2 separate regions of the Homo sapiens genome follow, and region 1 is linked to region 2. Evidence: fine-mapped expression QTL. A gene starts in region 2. The other region holds a variant in brackets. All regions are shown on one strand. Distances are from middle to middle. Region 1 overlaps FKTN (fukutin). Region 2 holds the start of FKTN (fukutin).

Region 1 (9,266 bases), 44 kb after region 2:
GAATATATGAATCAGATTTATTTGAATAAGGGAAAAGTAATGATCAGGAATAAAAATCTATTCAACCTATTCCTTTATAAGATGAGGGGAAACCAGCAATATATACAATATATCCTTGTTTTGTTTTAGAAATTTCAGAACCTACACATTGATAAAATATATTTTCCTATGTTTTAAAACTAAATTTAGAAAGAAAAACATTGCTGGGTTACTAATAAAACACAACATTTATTCTGTTAGCATACATTATGGGAATGACCAGATATTTCTTGATACACTTCAATCTTTGGCTTCTCTATAACTAGAGATGTGGAACACTTTAAATTAGAAGTGGATTTTCAGATCACCAAGCAGTGGTCATTTTAGATCATTGCTAACACCAAGTAGATTTTGAACTACTGTTTAAAAGTAAAGTCTGGGATATCCTATTATCAGGCTCCCCAGCTCTCTAGTCTATAAGTGTCAATGTAAACTTTTAATTTATTAAAAATAGCAATTGTTTTGCTCTGTGAATTTAGGGTATTCTGAGGATAAAGGTAAGCATGATATACTTGGAAGTTATACTACCCAGTCACAGTTATAAAGATTTTAGATTAAATTAAAAAGAGGTATTTTGTATGCTTCTCTGTAACACTTCTCTACCTCCATCCCACCCTTAGGAAACACATACACCTAATACTTGGACCTGATTTATCATCTTGTGGTTGAAGTAATTTGCTGAGATTTAAAATTCAGTATTTTAACAGCCAAAGGCAACAGGGGTGATCTTTCATACATTTTAACATTATAAGATGTGATGATACTTAGAGAAACATATATTTTTCAGATTTGCCATTTATTAGGAGTCTTCATCTGTACACTGTAAAGCAATTTCAGCAAAAAATTTAAAGCCGTAGTAGCTTCAGTTGGATAAAAGGTTTTCCTTTATCGGTATTAACCAACAACATTCTGACAACATTCCCAAACCTTTTAGTAAATAGAGAGAGCAGTCAGAGAAAGTACAGGTTCACTGATACATTTTAAAATGGAATTTGTGAAAAATTTAAAGCTTAAAATAATAGAAAAAAGTAGCGTGACTCTATCCTTTTCATTCAAGAAATGATCCTTGAGGTGGGAGAAAATAATGGATTTTTTTCAAAGTCTTTACTTCCACGGTACGCAAGCAAAAAGTTGAAGAGCAGCTTACCACATTCAGTGAGTTCTCTTTATACTCTTTTACATTGAGGGGACTAAAAAAAATTGTAAATGTGGTCACTGAATGACTATATTTGCAAAATCACAGGAAAGGAGAAGTACTAACATACTTCTAAACTTTTAGAAGGAATAAAAGGTGAAATCTCATCAATAGTGTGATATTGAGCCCTGGTAAAATTCTAGGGCTCAATGTTTATGGAGTTATTAAACAGATGACTTGGGAGCACTTAGAAAAGAAAATGATCATAATTAGGAACTAGGCTTTTACTAAGAACAAGTCCTGCCAAGACTTTTTAGGTTTTAATAAAATTTTAATACACAGGCAGATGAATGGGCTATTATGGTCTCAGCATAATCTCTTTTCAACAAGATGTTTTTCAGTCTTATAAACAAAATGAGTTACTGAAGGTCAGATGATAATAGTGATTTAGAATTAATTGGATTTAGAATCAACTGGACACGTTTCCAAGGAGCGTTAATGATTGTATTGATAACAACTTGGAGGATGTGTTTAGAAGGTGAGTTATAGAATCTCTGCTTGACCCTGACCTAATCTGTATTTATATTAATAATGGTAATGAAGCTATAAGTGTGTTCATCATATTTGTATTTAACACCAACCTGAGATCCATTCAACAAACATTAAAGTACCTTTTATGTAGTAGTTCTGTTATCTCATCTTTCTTCCAAAACCATTTCTTTCTTGTTTTTTTCCTAGTATAAAGCACAGAAAGTAATAACCCTAAAAGACACACACACACACACACACAAAATAGCTAAATTGGACTATTAAAATTTTAAACTTCTAGTCATCAAAAAACACTATTAAGAAAATGAATAAGCATGCCACAGAGTAGCAAATATTTGTAAAACATGTATCTCACAAAGGAATGGTATCAAAGATATATGAAGAACTCCCACACGACTCAGTAATAGATTTTTTGTTCATGCCTTTCATCAAGTTGAGGATGTATTTTATTCCTGGTTTGCTGAAAGTTTTAAATCATGAATAGATACTGAATTTTGTCAAATGCTTTTTTCTATATTGAAATTATCATAGTTTTTCACTTTTTTCTGTTGATTTGTCAAATTTTATTGATTGATTTTCAAATGCTAAAGTAAGCTTTCATTCCTAGGATAAATACTACTTGGTCATGATATTTACTTTCCTTTTTTATCTTTTTTTAGTTACTGGAATTGATTTTCTAATATTTTATTAAGTATTTTTGCATCTGTGTTCATGAGGGATGGTGGACTATACTTTTTTTTGTAAGGTCTTTGTCAGGTTTTGCTTTTTTTTTTTTTTTTTTGAGATGAAGTCTCTCTGTCGCCCAGGCTGGAGTGCAGCCATGTGATCTCGGCTCACTGCAACCTCCACCTTGTGATCTCGGCTCACTGCAACCTCCACCTCCCGGGTTCAAGTGATTCTCCTGCCTCAGCCTCCTGAGTTGCTGGGACTACAGGCACACACCACCACGCCCGGCTAATTTTTGTATTTTTAGTAGAGACAGGGTTTCACCATGTTGGCCAGGCTGGTCCTGAACTCCTGACCTCAGGTGATCCACCTGCCTTGACCTCCCACAGTGCTGGGATTACAGGCGTGAGAAGTTTTGCTGTTGAGTATGGCACTGGCCTCTTAAAATCAGATAGGAAGTATTTTCTCCTGCTCCATTTTCTCAGAAAGTTTTTGTAGAATTGGTATTCTTCCTTAAAAATGATAGAATTCACCAGTGAACTGTCTAAGTCTGAAGTTTTTCCTTGTTGTTTTGAGGGCAGTTTTTTTTTTTCCTAACAAATTCAGTTTCTTTAATAGGTATAGGGCAATTCAGATTTTGTTTCATCTTGTGGCAGTTTTGTTAAATTGTATTTTTAAAGAAATTTGTGTCATCTAAGTTGAATTTTTTGGTGTAACATTGTTTATCCTAACTTTTTACTTAGCTGTTTCTCACACTGAGGTAATAAACCCCTATAAGGCAGAGATTATTGTATTCTTGGCATTTGCATAATACTCTACACTAAAAACAAATAATGAGACTGATTCTTAGCTTTATCTCATCCTTTATCCTTACAATTGATATTTTGTCTATTTATTTATCTTGTATATATTTTTATGAGTTCCTTCAGATTTTCTGAATAAGAATTTATTCTTAATTTCATGAAGCACCTTTTTGATAGGCAAACATTCCTATAAGTCTTGCTTTCATTGAAGTAGGCTTTTAAGCAATAGTGTATGCCAGATATTCTGTTTATCCTTGCTGTTCTTAGATATTACTTATTCCTAAGTGTGATTTAGTCCATTTTCATTCTACTGTTGAATTTTTGTTTTTTTCAGTAGGGGACCCTACTTACTACCCAGCAGAGTTATATTTTGAAATATTGCAGTATTAGAAAAGCACATTATATATGGCAGTCATCAAGCAGGCAGTGTATTTTGGTCTGAGTCTTTTGCTTAGAAAGATTATTAAGCAGCATTACAGATATGAAGAAAAATGGTACAAACAACTGAATTTTGTTTTTGAAAGATTAACAAGACTGATTTTTAAAAGCTGACGGATAGTTCTCTCAATTTTGCTTGAAAAGATTTAGCTAATACTAAGAGAATAATTTTTTAAGCACCACATTTTCATGTCAGATACCACTTCCTCTGTGAAATTTCTTATCCTTTTGATGTATGGTAAATTTGTAGCTTACTGGTCTGTACTTTTATAATATGTTGTATATGTTTTTCTTGTAGCATATTTCACCTTATATTGAAAATGTTCATCTTTCTTAGAAGACTGCTTATTGAGAGCAGAGACCATATGTGCTATTTAATCATTTGTATTTTTTAGCACAATGATAAGCATGGTATCTATTGGGTAACTACTCTGCATTCTTATACAATTAATGAATTAAAATGTTATAAAATAGACTGTTGTGTTGGCTTACTGGAATTACGAGAATTCTTTTTCTCTCAAACAG[C/T]GTGCAGTTAAAAAATTTATTATGTTAACATCCAACCAAAATGTACCAGTGTTTCTTATTGATCCTTTGATACTGGAATTGATTAATAAGAACTTTGAACAAGTCAAAAATACTTCTCATGGCTCTACTTCACAATGCAAGTTTTTCTGTGTTCCAAGAGACTTTACTGCATTTGCACTGCAGTATCACCTATGGAAGAATGAGGTAAGTGACTTGCTTTCAGATAATGGAATGTGTCTCTTTTTACAAAATAGTATAGGTTTAGGCTAGTTTAAAATGTAAAACATTAAAAATTTTTCCTGAAACACTTTATAAATTGTATCAGGAATATTTTCAGCTATAAATAACAATACAACTAATCACTAAGGCAAATAGGGGATTTCTTTTTCTTATATAATGAGAGGTTAAAAGGTTAGTGGCTATTGATATTAGTTTAGCTAGCCACTGATGTCAGGACTTGTGTCTCTGAAATTCTTTATTCATTTACCTCATTATCACAGGATAGCTGTCGTAGCTCCACATATCACATCCATGTTCACAACAGGAAGATGAGAGGAAAGATTCTGCTTTTTTGCTGGGGGAAACTTCTCAATATCGGTATTTTTAGGTCATTTCTGTTGAACTGTTTGATATCTCATAGAAAAAGCCTACAAGGCTTATTTTTACAAAGAATATTTTATAATGTCCCTTTATATTCCCCAAATGAAGTTCATAGAAATTATAACCCTCCTATATACATAATTCCCCAAATCAATATAATGTATTAACTATAATATAACCTAGAAATAAAAGGAAATGATATGTATTGCTGTGTGCAGATGCTCCAGAATGACTACACTGGAAGACATAATAAAGTAATTCAGATGCTTGTATTTAGAAGTAGGATCACAGAATGTGGTAGCTACAAATATAAACCCATACTATGAATGATATTGTTGTTGGCAATATGATTTTCCAAAATAGTGAGCAAGTTTCCAACAACAAAAAAAGTAAAATTGTCTCTTCATTGACATGACTATTGTATTCCTGAGAAATAAAAGCTCAGACAATTATAAACAAGTTTTTCACTATGTGATTATGTGACAGGACATTTGAAATTACATAGTACACAGGATAGATTTTCATATTTTGGATTGTAGGATATCTAATGTTCTTGGCCTAGGACTCTAAATGCCAGTTTGTCATTATGATAAACCAAAAATATCCCCCCAAATTTCTGAAGTATCTGTTGGGTACAGTCCCACTTGCCTTGAGAACCACTATTTTAGAAGAAGGGGAGTATGCCACCATTGGCAAAACTGATACTACCATAGTCAAGAGGAAGAAGCAAAAGCTCAGCCATACCCAGAATCAGCACATGGGTTCAAGTTTATTCTTCGTTTGTTTTTGTTTGTTTGTGTTGGGTTTTTTGTTTTTGTTTTTGTTTTTTGAGACGGAGTCTCGCTGTGTCACCCAGGCTGGAGTGCAGTGGTGCAATCTCTGTTCACTGCAATCTCCGCCTCCCAGGCTCAAGGGATTCTCCTGCCTCAGCCTCCTGAGTAGCTGGGATTACAGGCGTGTGCCACCACGTGTGACTGATTTTTGTATTTTTTTTTAGTAGGGACGGGGTTTCACCATATTGGCCAGGCTGGTCTTGAACTCCTGACCTCAAATGATCCACCTGCCTCAGCCTCCCAAAAGTTTCTCCTTTTGTACATATGACATCCTACTATTCAAGAGATTCAAGAGCCCTTGGATAGTCCCCCCTAAAACATCCCCCAATGTGGAGCTAATCAGATTGTTAGATCTAATAATGAAAGACTCCATTTGCATGTGATTTTTCTTTATTAATGCCATTACCATAAAGTGAGCAAACCTCTGCCAAGGCTACTGGGAGTGGACTTTTCTAGCAAAACCTTGACCTAGGCCTTTACACCAATTGATCAGAGCAACTATTTTGTTCTTTACTTCTCTTGTTGATGGTTATAAGAAAGCAAACCATATCATAATTCTGCCTATTTTGTCTGTCAGTCTTTCCTCCTATAACCCAAGGTCACGTTCTTCTCAAGTTCTGGCCGGCCTTTTAAATATTTCCTGAATTTGTCAGCTGATAATGCCTTTCTTTTATTCTATTCAGTAGTGTCTTTCTCTGAATTGGCTACCCTCCCCCTCAGTCAGTGCTTTCTACTTCTAAGGTGTACCAAGAAAGAAAAGGGAAGAAGGGAATGTTACAGTTGATAATGAAACAAATGATGTTGGAAAATGAACCTTGTCTTACAGTATGTTTGTTAATTTCTAATGATTTGCATTATGATGGTGTTCTATTATGGTAGTATTTTAAGATGTTGGGATGTAAACTATGAGATGAAAGAACTACTTTTTTGAAGTACTTTTGAAGATAAAGGTTATTAAAAGTTAAATTAAGAATTACAAGTTTAATTTTAAGTGCTGTCCTTAAATCAACATTTACTTTATAGAAACTAACTGGAAAACACTAACATGAGCATTCTCATTCCAAGGAAGGGATTTGTATTAATTTTCATAGAGTTTTTTTTGTTTTTTTTTTTTGAGACAGGGTCTCACTTTGTCACCCAGGCTTGAGTGCAGTGGCACAATCTTGGCTCACTGCAGCCTTGATCTCTCAGGTTCAAGTGATCCTCCTGGCTCAGACCCCCAAGTAGCTGGGACTACAGGTACATGCCACCACACCTTGGCAAATTTTTGTTTGTATTTTTTGTAGAGACAGGTTGCCCAGGCTGGTCTCAAACTCCTGAGCTCAAGTGATCCACCTGCCTCAGCCTCCCAAAGCGCTGGGATTACAGGGGTGAGCTATGGTGCCCAACCTATAAAGAGAGTCTTTGGCTATATCTTTCCTGCTACATACTTTGTATTTTTGCTGCTTTCCTTTATTCTCCCACCACTACCTTCTGCCCATCACCCTCATTAAAAAATGTTCTTACAGAGCAGATTAGCACAAAAATATGGCTCAAGTTCAATATAAGAATCACTTTAGTTTTGCTACTAGTATTTGGCTTTAAATATTCAATGTTTAAGTGTTGTTTCTTGATGTTTGATGCTTCTTTGGTTCTAGGAAGGCTGGTTTCGGATAGCTGAGAATATGGGATTTCAGTGCCTAAAGATTGAGAGTAAAGATCCCCGGCTAGACGGGATAGACTCACTCTCTGGAACTGAAATCCCCCTGCACTATATCTGCAAACTGGCCACTCATGCGATCCACTTGGTAGTCTTTCATGAGAGGAGTGGCAACTACCTCTGGCACGGCCACTTGAGACTTAAAGAACACATTGACAGGAAATTTGTTCCCTTCCGAAAGTTACAGTTTGGTCGTTATCCAGGAGCTTTTGACAGGTAAGTTCAGAGTCAAAACGTGAAATGTGAAATGAGTGTTGTTCAGTCATAATTCTTGCAGTGTTTTTACATTTGAGTATTGAAATCTAATATATAATTTATATAAGTATTTACAGTAACATTATTCTTAATGACTCCAAATTAGAAGCCACCCAAATGTCCTTCAACAATAAAAGGATTGGCTGGGCACTGTGGCTCATGCATGTAATCCCAGCACTTTGGGAGGCCGAGGTGGGCAGATCACCTGAGGTCAGGAGTTCGAGACCAGCCTGGCCAACATGGTGAAACCTCGTCTCTACAAAAAAATACAAAAATTATCCATGCATTGTGGTGGGTGCCTGTAATCCCAGCTACTGGGGAGGCTGAGGAAGGAGAATTGCTTGAGCCCTGGAGGTGGAGGTTGTAGTGAGCCGAGATTGTGATACCACACTCTAGGCTGGGCAACAGAGCAGGACTTTGTCTCAAAAAAAAAAAAAAAACTGTAAAGGAATAAATAATTTTTGATATATGTGTTCATACAATGAAGTATTACACAGCAGGGAAAAATAAACTAGGGGTCTGTGCACATTGTGGATGAATCCTACAATGCTGAATGACACAAGGCACAAAAGAATCTAAATTCTATTATTATTATTATTTTTTTCCATTCAAAAGTTTCTTTTATTCATTAATAAACAATGATATATATGTATACACAGCTTCATAATCATACCAAAAAAGTTTAAGTGAACTATCCTTTAAAGGCTGAGACCATAACTTTTTGAACAGAAATAATATGGATTATAAGACAGTATATTGATTTTTGCTGTCTTTATTTTAATATAAAGAACAAATTGTGTGGTAAGACTAATTTATTTTCCCACTTTGAAATTAAACCTCTCTAGAAACATTTAGATAAATTATGAACTAATCTTTAAAATACCGTATTACTTCAGCATTTCAAAATCAGTAAGTTTGGAAACTGTATTTAAGTTAATATTAGGAATAATATAACCACTGTTGATAACTAACAATATAGCCAAAAGAAAATGTGGTACATACACACAATGGAGTACTATTCAGCCATAAAAAAGAATGAGATCCTGTCATTTGCAACAACATGGATAGAACTGGAGATCATTATATTAAGTGAAATAAGCCAGGCACAGAAAGACAAACTTTCCATGTTCTCACTTATTTGTGGGAGTGAAAAATGAAAATAACTGAACTCATGGAGATAGAGAGTAGAATGATGGTTATCAGAGGCTAGGAAGCATAGTGGGAGAAAGAGGGGAAGAGGGGGATGGTTAATGGGTACAAAAAAATAGTTAGAAATAATGAATAAGACTGAGTATTTGCTAGGACAACAAGGTGACTATAGTAAAAAATAATTGTACATTTTAAAATAACTAAAAGTATACTTGGATTGTTTAATACAAAGGATAAATGCTTGAGGTGATAGATACCCCATTTACTCTGATGTGATTATTATGCATTGCATGCTTGTATCAAAATATTGCATGTAACCCATAAGTATACACACCTACTATGTACCTACAAAAATTGAAAATACAAAAGTGAAAGTAAATTCTATTATTACTTTTATAAAAAGTTCAAACACATGCTAAATTATGTTCATGGATGTATACCCTTATAGTAAAAGTATTAAGAAGGCTAAGCAAGACGTACCAAAAAAGACTAGATAGAGGACACAGAGAACTACAGGGAAACTGGAAGAATTTTATTTCTGTGGTGGAGACTTTGGTGTTTACTTTATAATTCAT
Region 2 (13,227 bases):
GTTAGCATTGACTTATAAATAAATACCAGAATTTACCAGAGTACACTTTTCTCTTCAGATGACTCAATTATTAAATAAAAGAATATTTCTTATTTCTGGGTCAATATAAGGTACTGACTTCTGATGCATAATCACTTAAGCTATGTGAGTTTAAACTGGTATCTTTTCTTAGTGGTACCCATTCAATGTAAGCTGGTCCATGGGAATGGACATGAAGAGGATTTCACAGTATGTAGAGCAGAAGGCACGTGAATGTGTTTGCTTTGGCTTGGAGCTTATTAAGTTTTGACTACGGTTAAAATAAGTCAAATAGTAAGTGGTAAAACACATTTTTGTTAGTATTGGAACTTTCTGGAGAACATAAGGGCTATGAGAATGCATATATATATTTTTTAACATTTCCTATATATCTAAGGTACCAAAGCACTGAGTCTAATTTACCTATTAAGGGAGACTCTTTAAAATCAACTTTATAACTAATTCATACTATAAGACAGATAATAGCTAAAGTTTTGGAATAATTTATATTAAAAGCCGCAAGTCTTAAAAATCCCTGGATATGACATAAAAAGGATTTTGGCTTCTTTTTTGAAGTATTTAAAATTAATCACCTTAGCTCTACCATATACTAGATCTGTGACCGCTACACAAATTGTTTATCATCTTTGGGTCTCTATTGCCTTCTTTATAAAATAAGTGTAAGTTGTTCAGCCTGCCTCACAGGGCTGTTGTGAGGAAATAAAATGAAATGGAGTATGTGAAATTGCTTCAGCAACAGCAAAGTGCTACGTAAATGTAAAGTGTTGTTTTTAGCTAATAATGGATTTAAGTGTTTGGATAATTGTAGATGCATTTACTTTGATAAAGCGTGTGCTTAAAGTGGTATCACCAGTGATTTCTAACATGATTTTAAAAAAATAAAACCCCAATTAAAATGTTCTTTAATATTCATTTAATTTGTGCATGACTTGTGGCCTTTTTGTATTTTCTCAAGCCTATTACTCTAGAGCTGTAAAAGCTCTTGCACAGCATTGTTGTGTCAGTGTAGAATAGTGGCATAAATAAATGAATTAAGCTACATTTCCATGCAGGCATTTGCACTTTGAAGTTAGGGCTGCCCAGTGCCACATGCAAAGAGTGTATTTGGTCTAAACAGTTCTTTCCAAACAACCAAATGGCTGGGCAGCTTGTTGTCACGGATAAATGATATAAAATGTAACCACTGAACATTTGACAACTTTGTTGCATTATCATTTTTAAAAAAAGATGAAGCATTTCAAAATCTTGTTAACCTGGTTATCTCTTGGTATCTCTCCTGACATATTTGTTTTGCTTTAAATTGGATTAAATGGTTTACAGGTTATCTGAATCTACAGATTTAGTATGTCTATTATCTGGACATGATTTTGCTATGCAGTTGTGATAATAAAAATTCTAATTCCTCAGGTTTGGCCTTTTAAGTTATGGCTGAAGACCTTTAATGATACTTATGATGCACTCAGTGCCATACAATAGTGTTTTAAGAAGCACATGGCCTCATTTTCCTTAGAAACAAGACAAAGCCTTTTTAAAATGTTTTTTTTTCACTTTAAAATAGGGTATTCAAAGTGGAGTAACGTGTATTTTGAAATGATTTTGTGTTCTATATAGAATGTCCCAGTTAAGATTTTACAGAAGCACCTGGAATATCTCATTAAAAATTTAAAAACTCTTTTCCTGCTCTCTTTTGCTTCATTGTTTGATTTTATTAACTTTTATTTAAGTATAAATACAATATGCTGTTGGGGATGAGAATATAAAAAAAGTCATAGTTCCTTTGCCTAAAAAGCTTAACATTTTAGAGCACTACTGTTCAACAGAATTTTATGCAATTATGAAAAGTTATTTGTGCAGTCCAATACAGTAGTGACTGGCCATAGGCAGCTACTGAGCACTTTATATGTGGCTACATAGAGTTGCATATTGCTAATAGCCACTGTTTTGAACAGTGTACCTACAGATGGAAAATGAAACATGCTATGTTAGTAACTATAATATTACTTATGAATTTGGTTTCTTTGGATCTTGCTACATGTTGGGTTACATTTTGGTAGATGGTAACTAAGAGTCAGAATCAGAACCTAAACATTTTTAAAATTCTTGCTCTAACTTGAAAACAGTTTAAAAGAAAAAAAATCAGTGAGACTGGAGCGCCTGTAACTAAGAAGTTATGTAAGAAGAATGAAAGGAGACTGGATAGTCTTGAGTCACAGGAAGAAGAATGGACAAAGATTGATAAACCACTATAGAAGATGGAGAGTGAATGGGTGCAGCATTTCTGGAGAACAATTTTAGCAATATTAAGATTTTTAAATGCACATGCTCCTTAATTTCCTTTATAAGTATTTCTCTTACATATATACTCACAAAAAAGCCAATGTTCCTTGCAGCATTACCATAGCTAATAGTAGCAACCTAATTATTAATTGAAGACCTACAAATTTGGATGGACTTGGAGGTAAATTCCTTTTCCTTTTTTGGTAGCAAGGCACAGAACTGGTTCAAAAGGCCCAAGTTGCCTCAACAAAAGAATGTGATAACAGAATTTTGAAGGCTCCCCTTTTCTAACTTGCTGCACCAGCAAACTACCATATAAGTAGTGGTCTAGATATTATATATTCTGCACATTCCCCTCCCCAATAAATGTTATATAGACCATTATGACAATTGGCTTAATTAGAGCCTTTTCCTTGGTATACCAGTTCATTTGTGCCTGGCTGGGAGTTCTGTGGCATAAGAGCTCAGGATATTATGTGCACTCTACTTTTCTACTAAACCCCATTTTACACTTACACTGCATGGTGTATTTGTATTTATTTATTTTTGCACAAGGTCAGCACAAGAGCAGATGGTTAGATTTTGGTATTTCCATGTGATCCTACACAGCTGTTAAAGGATATGCTGTTAATGGAAGTGTATTCATGATATTAAACAAAAAAGTCATCCAGCAATATATACAGTACGATACAACGGGTGTGTGCATGCATGTATACTTGGGTAAGAGGGGACCCTGACCTGATCACCACACAGTCTTGCTGTGCTTCTCTTCATGGGATGAAAAATTGAGGAGCCAAGGGATTATGCCTACTTGGAATGCATGTTTCATTACCCACTTATATACTATATTATTGAAACAGTCTTTCGTTGTCTGAGATAACACCTGGAGTTCTTGTCCACTTATATACTACATTATTGAAACAGTCTTTCGTTGTCTGAGATAACACCTGGAGTTCTTGTCCCACCTCCAAGACGATTATGGAGCACGGACACAAAGGTGAGGTTAGAGTGAAAGTTTAATAAGGTGAAAGAAGAAAGCTCTCTGCCAGCAGAGAGGGGGTCCCGAACGGGAGTGCCCATCATGAGGCTGGGGTCCAGGTTTTTATGGACGGAAGGGGAAGGAATGTGCTTAGTCTGGGGGCTGTCTTGGCGAATGCGTGACTCGGCTTGGCCCGGGACCAGTCAGGAGGTGAAATGATTCATAGATGCTGCTTAGCTTGGCCCAGGACCTATCAGAAGCTGAAGTGAAGTGTGGCCGAGGACCAATCGGGCTGAGGTGATGATACACAGCAGCTGGACTTACAGTCCTAACAAAGGAAAGTAGAGCGCCCATAGGAACTTACCAGAGCCCACTGTGCCCATGCCTACAAAAGGGGAATAAACTTTTCCTGGGAACCTGCTGACAATACAAAGGACCAAGGCATTTCTATGCCAGGCCTTGTTCCCTTATCTGAGTGAGCTGGAGGTTTGTGCAAGTTTTTATCCAAATGGGCCGTAGGTTTTTCCATCTGTGCAGTCATGGGCATGTCTCCAGGCACAACACCCTGTGCTAGTTCCCTTATTGGTGCCTGCAGCTTTTTTCCCAGGCTGCTTTTTATATTATCTGGGGATAAGGCACTGACTCATGAGCCAGGGGCTCTCCAGGACCCTTCTCTTGTTACCTACCTAAGGTAAGCTAACTAACCGGATCCCCACACTCTTGCTGTGCCTCTCTTCATGGGATGAAAAATTGAGGAGCCAAGGGACTATGCCTACTTGGAATCCATGTTCCTTTACCCACAGAATTCTATACTATGTTATCAGCCAGAACCCCAGGATTCCTTGCCTCATCAGCCTGAAGCTTGCTTCCAGGATATGTGCAGGCCTTTTGTCCAAATCCATCCTGAAAAAAGACTACTACAGATGTATATACCCCTATGGCTGGCAGTTTGTGGGAAGTACAGATGAAGCTTGGATGTGCAGACTGAGTTGTCCACATGCATGCATGATAGGCCCCTGTGGCAGGCTTAAGCTAGAAGTAAAAAGAGACCCAGGGGATCAGGGAAGGGCAGGCCAACCTAGTATCACTTTCTAGTACACTTCTGAAGAATCTGCGAATCGCATATTTGAACCTAGATTTCTGTTCCTTGAGAATACATGTTAAAGTAGAAGAGTATAACATTTTATTTGTTGGTTAACGCTCAGCTATTTAGACACTGAAAATATGTCAGGGTTGGCTTTCATTTGTATTCTTGGCCCAGACCCTACAAATGTTAGGAGTCGGCCAGGATCCTTACATGTGTGCACAGCTGAGTGGTTTATAGAACATGAATATTTACTTGTAAGAGAGGCTGTTTTTATGCATCCTTGTACCCACTCTTTCAGCTGTATTTGCTATCCAGATTAAAGCATACTGACTTGACGTTTGCCATGAGCTGAGGGCTCACATTTGACCTTTCAGTATGCTTGATAAGTAACACTGCCACCAGTTTAGTTGTATATTTACCTTCAGTTATGTTTGTTCCCAAACCTGCTTATGTAGGTGGTAGTCACTGTTGTAGTCATGTAAGTATGTAAACCAATTATATAAATATATAAACCAAAATAAATATGAAATGAGTATGAAAAGGTACTTATAAGAAAAGTACGAGAACCATTAGAGATGAAGAGTTTAAAAAGTTGCAAAGTTAGTTGTGGCCAAAGTAATTGTGAGTGATAGGGGAAGATTTTTAAAAATAAATTCCAGGACTCCAAATTTATATTCCTTCACTTGTATCTTTAAGTTCCTGGTCCATTTTACAGAAACAGAAACTACAAATGATGGATGATGCATTATGTCTATGGTTTTGTAAGAAAAACAGTGAGATACTCTAATCAGCTGGTCCATGCTTAAAATGAACTTAGTTCAAAACAGAAGATTGGCCATTGTAACCCTCTACTGAAACTGCCTTTTTGAGAAGGTTTATTCAGAACTAGATTTGTTATACACTTGGAAAGTATTTATTTCTAAGAACCTGATAATTTTTCCCTTTTCCTGTTACTTTTAATTATAATTTCCAAATATACAGAAAAGTAGAAAGCCAGTGCTTTGTGCTCATCACCTAATCAATTGTTAACATTTTGCCATGTTTGTGCTATCTATTTTGTTTTAAAATGTCACCTGTAAGTATGCTATATGCATCCATGATGGCTTTTAAAAACAGCCACATTCTGTTAACATTCTTAGCAAAATTAACAGTAATTCTGTACTATTATCTAATGGATCAGTCCATACTAAAATTTCAGTTGTCTCAGAAGTATCTTTTTACAGTTATCTTGTTCAAATCAAGATCTAGACAGGGTCCACACATTGTACTCCGTTACATCTCTTAAATATTTGATTTTACAATAGTTCCCTCTGCTTTTAAATGCCATTTATGAAAAAAACTGAGGAATTTGTCTGGTAGAATGTCCCGTTTTCTGAATTTAGTTGCTTCTCTATATCCTGTATTAGATCTAGAGTTTGAGTAAATGCAGGTTCAATTTTTAGGCAAGAATCCTTCACAGGTGTGGCTGTGTACTTTCTATCACATCAGGAAGTACATAATATATGCTTGTCCCAAATTTAGTGAGATTAAGATCAGTGGGTTTAGGTGATGCCAGTCTATTATAAAGTTCCCCATCAACCTTTCACCTTAATTTTATCATCTATTGATGTTGCCCTTTCGATTATTTTATTAGGAGTTACAAAATCGTGATTGTTTTATCATCCTCCATTTATTAGCTGGAACTCTTATAAGTACTTTGGTTACACTAAAATTCAATTCATACAAGAAAGGCAGGATAAATGCTTGATGTTTTCCCTTATCAAGTTTTAGAATATTTAATCTTCAACTTGGCAATCTTCAATCACGACTGAATTTTATTTTTTAAGGAGTCATTATAAACTCAAGAATTTTTATATTTGATGTGTTTCAATCAATAGCAAGTATGTGATGCTCAAGTTTTCCCATGTCCCATCACGTTAGCACCTGTGTTAATGATGCCATTAAGCTTTGATAACTTACTTCCTCTTGGTGTAACCTTCCACTTTTTTTTATTAACCTACTGAGTACCTACCCGTTCTGAGTGCATTGGATGAGAGGACTTCAACAGTAAGCTTGTATGTGCATAGGAAATTTCTGGAAGGAAAAACAAAAAGTTGGTAAATGTCATAACCTGTAGGAAGTGAGGAAGATTTTTTCTTCCTTTTCTTTCTGTACTGATAGAATTAAAAACAAAGCTTAGAAAACAAATATATGATGGGAGTATTTTCCGTTTTGTAGAAATAAATTATAATTACAGTAACTGGTTTAGTGAATTATGGTTTTCAAAAATTTATAAGAAGATTAATATCTGAGCCTTAACAACCACCTTTTGGATTACACCGTTAAAAGAACCAAAGTGAGAGGATCGCTTGAGGCCAAGAGTTCGAGACCAGCCTGGGCAAGATGGTGAGGACGCCCTCCCCCCCACCCCCGCCACACCCCGCCCTGCTAGCCCCCAACGTCTCTACAAAAAAAGAAAAGAAAAAAGTTAATCAGGTACAAAATTGTATCCAGCCTTAAACTGGAGGGCAACAGGTCGCTAAATCTTGAATGTCATAAAGGCACCTCAACTTCATGAGGAATAGTGAACGCAGCTGCTATTTTCCACTCTATCCCCTAGCTCTACTAATTGTATCCAAACCAAACTTCAGGGAGTTATGCTGAATCCCTCTAGCAAAGCACACGCACTAAAAAAACCACTCGTTTATCAGAAGTTCACATTTAACGGGCTTGGAAAACGGCTCAGCTGCTGCCTCCAGTTCATCTTCCGCTGTCGAAAGCGTTTCAGAACTTAAACTCTCAGATTGCCTCAGTGCGCTGCTGTAGTTGTCAATTAGGCAAGAGATAAAAAAGGGCTTTGGCTAAGTGGCTAGATTATAAAAGCGAGGAATCGCCAGGGCTCAGTGAACTTCTGGCGGTGAGGATGCGACAAGAGTCACAGGAAAGCCGAGGCTGGGGCTGGACCGTGGGAACGTCCCAGCAGGAACCAAGCCAGCCTCCGCCGCTCAGCACTTGACGGCGGCTTTTGCGGCGGTTGCTGTGAGTGCCGTAAAGCGGAGCGGCTGCAGCCTGCTGTTGAGTGAGGTAAGGTACGGGAGGCTCAGGTCGGTACCCGGGGATGGGTGGGCGCCTTCAGACAGGTACCGCTGGCGACTCGGGTGCCCTTACCGGGCATCCTCCAGCATTCTGGGCACCTGCCTACCCCTTGGTGAGGAGGCCGGCCACAGGCTGAGCGCGCTCCGGGCTGGGTACTCCTCAGTCAGTCCACGAGCATCGCGTGGTAGACTTCCACTTGGCCAGTCCTTCCCGCACTTCTGGGCGTGTCATCAGGTGAAATCTTAATCCTGGGACAGATGAAAGGTTGGAGGACGATCGAGACTCTTGTAGTAGCCGGGTTAGGGTAGTGACCCCTGACCTCAGGTTATCCGCCCGCGTTGGCCTCTCAAAGTGCTGAGATTACAGCCGTGAGCCACCGCGCCCGGCCTGAAATTTACAATTTCTCATTTAACATGAGGTAAGCCACATTTCTCTTGGCTTCAGTTTTGTCAGATGTGGAAAAAAAAAAAAAAGGACCTAGATGATATATCAGATTCTTTATGCTTTTGAAGATAGCACGTTTCCAGTCGGTAAAAATCAAGCTGTGAACAAATGACAAAGTGAATGATAGAGCAGTATATTAGAAATTGGGCAGATGGAAGCCCAGTAGAAAAGGCTGTGTTTGAGCTAGACTCTGAGGATAAATAGGGTTTGAACGATTGGAAACCATCTCTGTTGGGCCATGGACAAAGATATCAAATGCAGGAATAAGCATTTATATTTTAGCGATTCTATTTGTGGACATAAGTTTAGTGAGGGTAGAGGATTTGGGAAGGCTGGCATTGAACGGTGAAAGAACTCTTAGTGGAAAGGAAGTGCAGGGTGTTCTGACAAGGAAGAAGAAAGGAACCGGGGAAATGCCGAAAGAACAATACGCAGGACTTGATTTCTTGGATCTGGGTGATGATATTTTTAACCTGCGTTTCTAAAAAGTAAGTTTAAGTGCTGTTGGCAAAAATGGGAATTCTGTTGAATTCCAGCATGCAATAGTGTACTGGGAATAAAGTGATTTAGATCGTAGAGTGCTGAGGTTGCCAATAACTAGCCTCTTGGCTGTCATTTAATTCTTCTAGAGCCTATTCTCCATAAGGTGATGTTGGGCCAGCTGATCTCTCTTCTCTAAAGCCTGTAAAACTAGAGACTGTGAGGATGGAGAGCTAGTTACTTTCTTCTGGACTGGGAGAGGACGATAGTTGACAGAGAATAAAATTGTTAATTTTGGGGCTGGACGCGGTGGCTCACGCCTGTAATCCCAGCACTTTGGGAGGCTGAGGCGGGTGGATCACCTGAGGCCAAGGAGTTCGAAACCAGCCTGGCCAACATGGTGAAACCCTATCTCTACTAAAAATACAACAAATTAGCCGGGTGTGGTGGCGGGCGCCTGTAATCCCAGCTACTCCTGAGGCTGAGGCAGGAGAATCGCTTGAACTTGGGAGGCAGAGGTTGCAGTGAGCCAAGATCAGGCCACTGCACTCCGGCCTGGGCAACAAGAGCGAAACTCTGTCTCAAAAAAAAAAAAAAGTTAATTTTGAACATGTTAAATTTGAGGTGAGGTGCAGGAAATAGAGTTGAAAATATAGGCAGATAGAGTGCATGGACTGTAATTTAAATAGTGTTTTCTCTCACAGGTGGTAGTTAAAATCTTGAGAATGGATTTGGTTTCAGGGAGAGATTGTAGAGAGAGTAACTATAGGCCATACCCACAGAGAGGAGGTTGGAGAAATTATTGAAGGAGGCATGTGGATCTCAGAGCTAAGAGCAAGGAAGGAGTTCTTTTTAAAAAAGTTACATATAGTTGTAGATTCTCAGGGGCCCAGTGTTGTTATTAAGCTAATTTAACAGCATTTACAGCAAATAATAAGCACCTACTTCTGGGAATTCTGGCAGAAAATAAATAATTCAAATAGATATAATCTCCACTGCCTAATTGTCTACCCAGAAGTGGTATCATTTACATATTTATTTATTCAACAAATATTTATATGTTTCAAGCACTGCTGGTTCTAGGGATATAACGACGAGCAAGGTAGACATTGTTCTTATCCTCCCTGCATGTAAAGCCCTTAGCATCTACATCAGTGCTTTTCAAATTTTAATGTACATATGAATCATCTGAGGATTTTATTAAAATGTAGATTATGAATCAGTAGGTGGGGGCTGAAAATTCTGTATTACTAACAAGCTCCAATGTGATACTGATGTTCTTAGGACCATACTTTTAAGTGACAAGAATCTAGATCCTGTTTAGCAAATATGGCCGTTATTAAGCCACTACCACTACCCATCATCTGTTTCTCCTAGGATAAAATAATTTTACTTCTTATGAAAATAATATATGCTTATACAAATATTGGAACAATATAGAAAAGTGTAAAGAACCATGTAAAAATCACTCCTAATTCTCCCTACCCAGAGATAACCATTATTAATATTTTTGGGAACATTCATCCAGATTTTACATATGTACATACATTCACAATTTAAGTGTTGCACTAAGTACATGTCACACTCTAAGCCCTGTGTTTGATTCTATTTGCTGTATGATTTTATTAAGATAAATACCCAAGTGTCCAGAACCAAGCAATTAAGTACTTGCATTCTTGAGGGAGCCACTTAAAAATAATTTGGGGGCCAGGCACGGTGGCTCACGTCTGTAATCTCAGCACTTTGGGAGGCCAAGGTGGATGGATCACGAGGTCAAGAGATCAAGACCATCCTGGCCAGCCTGATGAAACCCTGTCTCTACTGAAAATACAAAAATTAGCTAGGCTTGGTGGCACATGCCTGTAGTCCCAGCTACTCGGGAGGCTGAGGTAGGAGAATCACTTGAACCTGGGAGCGGAGGTTGCAGTGAGCTGAGATTGTGCCACTGCACTCCAGCCTGGCAACAGAGCAAGAATCCGTCTCAAAAAACAAAAAAAAAAACAAAACAAAAAACAAACTTTGGGAGCCGGACAGTGTCTCATGCCTATAATCATTCCAGGTGCCCAAGAGGCTGAGGTGGGAGGATTGCTTGTGCCTAGCAGTTTGAGGCAGCAGTGAGCTATGATTGTGACACTGCACTCCAGCCTGGGTGACAGAGCAAGACTCCATTTCTTAAAAAAATAAAAACTTGTGTTACTTCAAAAATGGGGAGACATTAACATAATTACATGTGGGCTCTAGTAAATGAATATTTGTCATTTCATTTAGGATGAGAGGAGAATTTTTAAAGTTTTAAAAAAAACTTAGTTTTTTTCTTACTACAAAATCAATTGATGTTCACGTAAGATAAATAAGGAAAAAAAATAAAAGCACCTACACTCCTCCCAACCCAAAGACAATCCTTGCTGTCTTCACCTTCCTTCCTGCTAACCTGTCTTATCTATATCTTTCATTTCAGCCACTATCTTTCCAAAACCCTCTTACACCATAGTCATTCAGAAAGGAGTAACTATGTATTTATGATTTTTCTGGAGCATCTACTGGAGAAACTAAATTTCATTAGCTTTTTATCTTCAAGTAACAGCATGTGTAGGTAGAAGTTATATTGCAAAGGATTAAGTGCATGAATGGTAAGCAGGTAAAGAAACTTCTTAACCCTTTGCAGTCTAATGTTTACTTCCAAGCTGCTGACAGTTGTGAAAAGTTAGCAGTCAAAGGAAAAGAAATGGACAATAAGAAAGACCAACAGTATTTAGGGAAGATTTGATAGTAGCTGTTGCTACTGGGATATTTTTGGCTTTTGAGAACAGCTGAAAAATGTCGATTTTTTTTTTTTTTTGGTCTGACCTCTGAATTCATTTTCAGACGCATTTTCTCTTTATGCCTGCCAATCTGCTACATCATCTCTCTAACTATACCTTTTCCTAATTACACTACTCTCTTTCCTCTGTAGTTCAGCCTCCTGTTTTATTTTGTTCAGAGCATATTTGAATGTCAGTTCTGTTTTAATGAATTGCCTGAAGGATTCTTCCTGTGCGCTGCACAAACGAAACCAGTTCACTGAGACTGTGCTACTGCAGTAAAGAAACAGCTTACTTAACAATGATGCTGGCTGTGCAAAGGAGTTATTACTCAAATCAGTCTCGCCAAAGACTTGGTGGTTAGTTTTTCAAGGATAGTTTTTAGTTTGGTGGCAGGGGACTAGGGAATGAGGGCTGCTGGTTGGCTGGGGATGTGATGATAAGGGTGTGAAAAATGGTCCTTGTGTGCTGAGTCCACCTCTGGGTGGGGAGCCACGTGACTGGTTGGGTCATGAGTCACTAGTTCACCTCTAGGTAGTGTCAGTTGGTCCAGAATGCAAAGGTCTGAAAAATATCTCAAAAGACCAATCTTAGGTTCTGTAGCCAGGGAAAATATAAATCCTGTGTCCTCTGGAAAAAAGACTGGTTATCATTTAACTACATGTTACCAGAATTCAGGTCCCTCTCATAATCCTAATCTTGTAGTCTTTCATTACCTTTATAAAGGCAGTTTAGTTTTGGAAAAGGTTACTATCATCCTTGCTTTAGGTTAAACTGTAAACTAAATTCCTTTCAAAGTTAGCTTGGCCTGCACCCAGAAATGACCAAGGACAGATTGGAGGTCAGAAACAAGATGGAATCAACTATGAGATTTCTCTTAGCTGTCATAATTTTGCAAAGGCAGTTTCACTCTCTGATTCATACTATCTATGCCTCACTCTTACTCCCCAATATCCCCAAATAAGTCGGGGATCCCACAGCATAAGGATATGGCTAGGCTCTCACATATCATCTTATGAACCTAAGTTAGGTGTCAGGGAAGGTTTTTGATTCCACTTCCCCCCACTCCTGCCTTCTGGATCATCTCTCTTGATATATCATTCATTCATTCATTCATTCAAACAGACCCCTACCTAGGTGATTCTCAAAAGAGTGGGGTCTGGGGCTGGAGGAGGTGTCAGGGTAAACCAGTTACCAAAAGTCTTTCATACTAATACCTTCAAAGGACAAATGCAAATGTAAAAAGGAAGCTGAAAGAATATGCAGTGGGGTTCCAAGATGGCCGAATAGGAACAGCTCCAGTCTACAGCTCCCAGCGTGAGCGACGCAGAAGACGGGTGATTTCTGCATTTCTAACTGAGATACTGAGTTCATCTCACTGGGGATTATCGGACAGTGGGTGCAGGACAGTGGGTGCAGCGCACCGAGCGTGAGCCGAAGCAGGGCAAGGCATCACCTCACCCGGGAAGTGCAAGGGGTCAGGGAATTCCCTTTCCTAGCCAAGGGAAGGGGGGACAAATGGCACCTGGAAAATCGGGTCACTCCCACCCTAATACTGTGCTTTTCCGACAGTCTTAGCAAACAGCACACCAGGAGATTATATCCCACGCCTGGCTCGGAGGGTCCTATGCCCACGGAGCCTCACTCATTTGTAGCACAGCAGTCTGAGATTGAACTGCAACGTGGCAGCGAGGCTGGGGGGGGGGGCACCCGCCATTGCTGAGGCTTGAGTAGATAAACAGAGGGGCCGGGAAGCTCGAACTGGGTGGAGCCCACCACAGCTCAAGGAGGCCTGCCTGCCTCTGTAGACTTCACCTCTGGGGGCAGGGCATAGCCAAACAAAAGGCAGCAGAAACCTCTGCAGACTTAAATGTTCCTGTCTGACAGCTTGGAAGAGAGTAGTGGTTCTCCCAGCATGGAGCTTGAGATCTGAGAACGGACAGACTGCCTCCTCAAGTGGGTCCCTGACCCTCAAGTAGCCTAACTGGGAGGCACCCCACAGTAGGGGCAGACTGACACCTCACACAGCCGGGTACCCCTCTGAG

What was found.
Region 1: its variant is fine-mapped to the expression of FKTN in whole blood (TOPMed, PIP above 0.99).

The regions. Positions count from the first base shown.
Region 1 is chr9:105,596,990-105,606,255 of GRCh38, forward strand. It overlaps FKTN (fukutin), which reads left to right. Exons shown (of 11, transcript NM_001079802.2): 5 at 4,156-4,359; 6 at 7,226-7,503. Among named protein-coding and RNA genes, the nearest start is that of FKTN-AS1, 43 kb to the left of the region's middle. The variant C/T (reference allele first, on the strand shown) is at 4,156.
Region 2 is chr9:105,550,721-105,563,947 of GRCh38, forward strand. FKTN (fukutin) reads left to right here and starts at 7,411. Exons shown (of 11, transcript NM_001079802.2): 1 at 7,411-7,445. FKTN-AS1 (FKTN antisense RNA 1) reads right to left here and starts at 7,586. Exons shown (of 3, transcript NR_184141.1): 1 at 7,050-7,586; 2 at 6,394-6,455; 3 at 3,315-3,623. FSD1L (fibronectin type III and SPRY domain containing 1 like) reads left to right here. Exons shown (of 14, transcript NM_001145313.3): 14 at 1-1,713. RefSeq lists enhancers at 7,272-7,321, 7,482-7,671.